2 separate regions of the Homo sapiens genome follow, and region 1 is linked to region 2. The links come from fine-mapping of genetic effects on gene expression. A gene starts in region 2. The other region holds a variant in brackets. All regions are shown on one strand. Distances are from middle to middle.

What was found. PIP is the estimated chance that this variant, and not a neighbour inherited with it, causes the effect.
Region 1: its variant is fine-mapped to the expression of POLB in testis (GTEx, PIP above 0.99).

What each region holds. Positions count from the first base shown.
Region 1 is chr8:42,276,506-42,279,419 of GRCh38, reverse strand. All of the region lies in intron 2 of IKBKB (inhibitor of nuclear factor kappa B kinase subunit beta), which reads right to left. Among named protein-coding and RNA genes, the nearest start is that of IKBKB, 6.7 kb to the right of the region's middle. The variant C/T (reference allele first, on the strand shown) is at 1,257.
Region 2 is chr8:42,337,091-42,340,004 of GRCh38, reverse strand. POLB (DNA polymerase beta) reads right to left here and starts at 1,511. Exons shown (of 14, transcript NM_002690.3): 1 at 1,320-1,511; 2 at 936-993. The coding sequence starts at 1,380.

The DNA of each region.
Region 1 (2,914 bases), 61 kb after region 2:
ACTACAACATTCCTTCTTCTGCAGACAAGATGCAGTGCATGGAGTGTCAGGAAAGTGCACACTGTTGTTACGTGGAGTAAAACCATCAGAGTCAAGGAACCAACACCACCATAGCCCAGCTGCTTCTTTTAAGAGGCTGTGAACAGAGGGGTTCCCAACAGAGAACATACACGCTCATCTTCTGAACTTGGACAATGATCAAAGACTTCTCCTCAGCACCCAAAGCAGCCCTAGAGATTTCCCAAACTTGGGGAGAACCCACGGGGAAGGAAGGTAGAGAGCTTCCTGGCCTGGGCCGGGCTCACGGGTAGGCATCATTGAGGACCTGCAGGCACTCCACTCCTCCTGCTCCCCTCCACCTCTACTCCACCACTAAGCGCTGTTAATTCCACCCCTTAAATCTCTCTCTCTCTTTTTTTTTTTCTCAGACAGAGTTTCGCTCTTGTTGCCCAGGCTGGAGTGCAGTAGCACGATCTCGACTCACTGCAACCTCCACCTCCTGGGTTCAAGTAATTCTCCTGCCTCAGCCTCCTGAGTAGTTGGTATTACAGGCATGCGCCACCATGCCTGGCTAATTTTGTATTTTTAGTAGAGACGGGGTTTCTCCACGTTGGTCAGGCTGGTCTCGAACTCCCAACCTCAGGTGATCCACCTGCCTCTGCTCCCAAAGTGCTGGGATTACAGGCATGAGCCACTGCACCAGGCTAAATATCTCTTAAGTCTGCCCACCTCTCCCCATCTCTCACCTAGACGACTCCAAAACATTCAGACCTGGTCTGCCTGCATCACTGGGACGGAGCCAGTGACACTGTAGTAGCAGTCACTGAGAGCTGGTTGTTAACTACTCAGGAATCAGGCCGGAGCGGGCTATTAAACTACTGGTGGCTTGAAGTCAGCCCTGGTGGGAGTAGCTACTCCATGAGAACTGCTGCACACTATGGATCAAGGCATTTCTTCCGAGAGCTGATTTTTTCCCAGCACGCTGCCCACTGCTTGGGCCCTCCCAATCTGTCCCCATGGGCACAGCGCCTCCCTCTAACATCGTTCCACTGCTCCTCCATCAAAACAAAACCTCCTCGGCTGAAACTGCCCAAAAAACACCACAGGATCTGACTTGCACCGTCCACCCTCAGCCACCCAGGCACTTGTGCCCCATCCTCCCTTCCGGCCACGCTGGCCTTCAGTCTTGCCCACTTGCCACACCTGCCCTCCACAGAGGCCCCTCAGGAGCCTCTCCCTTGGCCTGGAACTCTCCT[C/T]CCACCTTCTCTGTCAAGCTGACTTCTACTAGGGCCTCAGTTCAAGTGTCACTTCCTTGGGGAACCTCCTCTGACACTGACTGATCCCACCCCAACGGAAGGTCTCAGTGCACTGGGTCCTTCTCCCAACTCACACTTTACCATACTTAGGAGCTTACATTTATAATTAGTTGACTAATGGCTCCTTCCCTTCTCCAAAGGTCTGCTTTAATTACCAATGTACACATAATAGACATTCGATAAATATTTGTGGACTGGCAGAGTGGATGATTTGGGGCACCTAGCACATATACAACGTCAGGCACTTGCTACAGGAGAACTGAAGGAACTCCAAAGGCCAGACCCAGCCCTGGCTGACCAGGAATGCAGGGTCCTGACAAGACTTACTCCACACGCAGACAGGAAGGGCGGCACAGGAACCAGCCCAGAGGAACTCACCGGGAGAACCAGTTGCCACAGAACAAAGCCATCCCAGACGCATATGAGGAGGAGATGGCCTAGAGTTGGTCCTGGAGGAATGTGGAGGAGGGGGAGGCCTGTCCGGCAAGAGGGCTCAGCGCTCAAAACAGAGGCAGCCAAGGGGAGGAATGATGGAGAGGCAGGTGCAGACAGACTGTGTGGGGTTCAGCCGGCAGGAGGAGGAAGCTGGCTTTTGGCTTTTTAAAAATAAATAACAGGCCAGGCGCCTGTTAGTGACTCATGCCTGTAATCCCAACACTTTGGGAGGCCAAGGTGGGCAGATCACTTGAGGTCAAGAGCTTGAGAACAGCCTGGCCAGCATGGTGAAACCCCGTGTCTACTAAAAATATAAAAACTAGCCAGGCATGGTGGCAGGTGCCTGTAATCCCAGCTACTTGGGAAGCTGAGACAGGAGAATCGCTTGAACACAGGAGGCAGAGGTTGCAGTGAGCCGAGATCAAGCCACTGCACTCCAGCCTGGGCAACAGAGCGTGACTCCGTTGCAAAAAAAAAAAAAAAAAAAATTAGCCACACGTGGCCGGGTGCGGTGGCTCACGCCTGTAATCCCAGCACTTTGGGAGGCCGAGCAGGCGGATCACAAGGTCAGGAGATTGAGACCGTCCTGGCTAACACAGTGAAACCCCATCTCTACTAAAAATACAAAAAAAAAATTAGTCGGGGGTGGTGGCAGGCGCCAGCAGTCCCAGCTACTTGGGAGGCTGAGGCAGGAGAATGGCATGAACCCGGGAGGCGGAGCTTGCAGTGACCCGAGATCACACCACTGCACTCCAGCTTGGGCGACAGAGCGAGACCCCGTCTCAAAAAAAAAAAAAAAAAAAAAAAATTAGCCGGGTGTGATGGCGCTGCCTGTAATCCCAGCTACTCAGGAGGCTGAGGCAGGAGAATCGCTTGAACCCAGGAGATAGAGGCTGCAGTGACCCGAGATCGCACCTGTCTCAGCTGAGAGTGAGACTGTCTCAAAAAAAAAAAAACAAGAAAACATACGGGAAGTGCTTCAGGGCATTGGTCTGGGAAAAGATTTTATGGATAAGACCTCAAAAGTACAGTTAACAGAGGCAAAAGTAGACAAATGAGATTACATCAAACTAAAAAGCTTCTGCACAGCAAAAGAAAAAACAGAATAAACCTATGGAACCTATGGAGACAACTTATGGAATGGGAGAAATTATTTGCAAACT
Region 2 (2,914 bases):
AAGGAATGAAGATTTTTCAAGAAGATTCACCATAAAGTGAGAAAAGAGGGAAGGTGCTAGCTAGAGGGAAGTTAAGATTGTTTTGGTTTTGCTTTTAAGAGCTGAGGGACTTGCACATATTTATAGGCTAAGGAGAGCTGACACCGAGGCTGATGCCTGGAATCCCAGCACTCTGGGAGACCAAGGTGTGTGGACCATTTGAGTTTAGGAGTTGGAGATCAGCCTGGGCAACATAGCAAAACCCGGTCTCTACAAAAAAAAAAAGAAAAAAAAAGAAAGAAAAAAAAATTAGCTGGGTGTGGTGGCGTGCGCCTGTAGTAGTCCCAGCCACTCAGGAGGCTGAGATGGGAAGATCACTTGAGGCTGGAAGGTTGAAGCTGCAATGAGCCATGATCATACCACAGCGAGACCCCGTCTCAAATAAAAATAAATAAATAAATAAATATAGGCTAAGGAGTAGAAGCAGGTGGATGTGGAAAGAATGAATAGGATAAGGCCCCTGGTGAGATGAACAAGGACAGGATCCCATGAACAAGGAACAAGGATCAGGATCAGGATCCCACAGGATCAACTTTAGACCAACCAAAAGAAAAAATGTGATTCCTTGAACCACATATATTTCACAGTATGGACTTCATCCGCTGTCTTTCATTACGGTTAAAATTACACCGCATTTCTAGTAATTCATGTTTGATGATGACAAAATACGTATCAGGCTACAGCTATCTGCAATCAGAATTGGGAACTTATCTGAACTGATCCTATAACGCACTGCCCACATTCTTCAAGAAATAGTAAGGTACCAGCCTCGATTCTTGCTTTTTCCCGCTCTTGCAGATGGACCAAATATCCACTGGGCCCTCAGTCCTGTTAATTGCCACACTAAACAGGGTATCCCAGAACGTATGCTACCCGAGAATGCTGCACTGTCCCACCTGTAAGCATTGTACTTGTGGATAGCTTGGCTCACGTTCTTCTCAAAGTTTGCGAGTTCTGAAAGGCAACAGAAGGCTCGGGTGAACAAGAACCACGAGTAAACAAACGAGAACTGTTTTCTGGAAGGGGATATGGCAGCCTCTAAGAGACAGTGACCACCCGTTTCCTCCAAGGGCCAGACCAAAAGCAGCCCAAGCGATGGCCCAGGTGTAGCCGGCAGGACTGACAACCAGCCAGGGGCGCCGGAGGGAGATCCCCACGGAAGACGACCCGCTGCAAGGAACCTACCCTACCCACTGGACTGTCGGTGTGGGAGAGAAGGAAGGCAGGGGAAGAGGCTGGAAGGAAAGAAGAAAGCCAGCGGGGCCCGGCCCGGTGCTAACCTGTGAGCATGTCGGTGATTCCCCCGTTGAGAGTCTCCTGCGGCGCCTTCCGTTTGCTCATGGCGGCCTGCACCCGAGAACCCCAGAGTGTTCAGAACCAGGGACTAGAGCCCTCTCCCAGCTTGAAGGAGGTACCAGGACTTGGAGACGGGAGCAGGAGCAACCCAGCTCCGGCGCGACCGGCGGAACAATGGTTGCCCCCGATGGGGGGCGGGGCGCACGGCGCTTGTTGTGACGTCACGCGTCCTGGGCGGGGCGGGGCGGGGCTAGAGGGGCGAGCCCTCGGCAGGTGAGGAGAGAGAACTCGGAGGGTTCGTGGACTCGTGGACGTGGACACGGCGCGGGGGAAATAGGCACCTCAGAATGACAGCCCAGGGGCCTTCCTATGGGAAGACCTGGAGTTTTGACCTAAGATATTAAATCTGTTTTCTCAGTGTTTATCTGGAATCCTTTCCCTAGAAGGGGAAACGGGAGTGCGATCTTGATTCTGAAATACTTGCGCTGGTGGGGTAGCTTCCTGCACAAAAATGTGCACTGTAATAGCTACCCAATGCATGGCGCGTTTTGTACGTGGTTAGAGGCGACACTGGCGTCACACTGTCAAAACTTTCTCTAAGGATACCGGGCAGTCCACACTCCAGTGCAGCCCCTTACGTACTAGGGCGCTGCCGGAGCCCGGCGTGAACCATGCCGAGAACAGGAATCCTCCCGCACACGTGTTAGTACACCTGCCAACCAGTGTCAAAAGATATTTTATTTTTAATCCCCCTGCCTTTGCGGTAGGGACCAAATTAATGAAGAGACCACAAGAAAGGGAGAAGTGTTTCATCTAGATCATGAGCAATGGAACCCTAATTATAACATGATGACCTACATCTGAGAAATTTACAGTCTGCTTGAGAAATGGAAATGTCACATCAGCAATAGTTTATTTTACAAGCGTAACTCCTGGGTTCATATCGAACTGCAATTCCAGGCAATTGCTTTGTGCATCGAAAAATTAAAATTTATTACAAAATGATACGTAGTTGCTGTAGAGAAATCTGGAAAAATGTATAAAAGGAGAAAATTAAAATCAGTGATCTCACCCTACAGCTGAACTATTAATATTTTGGGACGTACACTTCTAGTCTTCTAACCCAGTCTATTAAAAATTCCCATTATTTTCCAATAAATATCATTAGTTTCTTTGATTAGCAAGGTTGTGGTGATTGTGTTTCCTTACAATATCAGTGTATATCTTAAGTTATGCTTATTGGAAATCTGTAATTCTTCTTTTTTTGAATTTCCTATTCATATCATTTACCATTTTCCTAATGGGGGTAGTTTGTTACTAATCTGGTAGATCTTTTCTATATATTACTACTTGCCCTTTTATGGATAGCTTTTGTAAAAATTTTGTACATATTTGTATTTTCCTCAATTTATTACTTGAGGAATAAAAGTTAAAAAAACTTTATGCCTGCAACTTAACTATCTGATTAGTTAAGCTGCAGTGAGCAGTGACCACTCTCATTTACTCTTTATACTCTCATTTACATATATGACTTGTCCTAGTTTTCCCTGTTCACACTTTTTTCTGTCCAATCTCTATT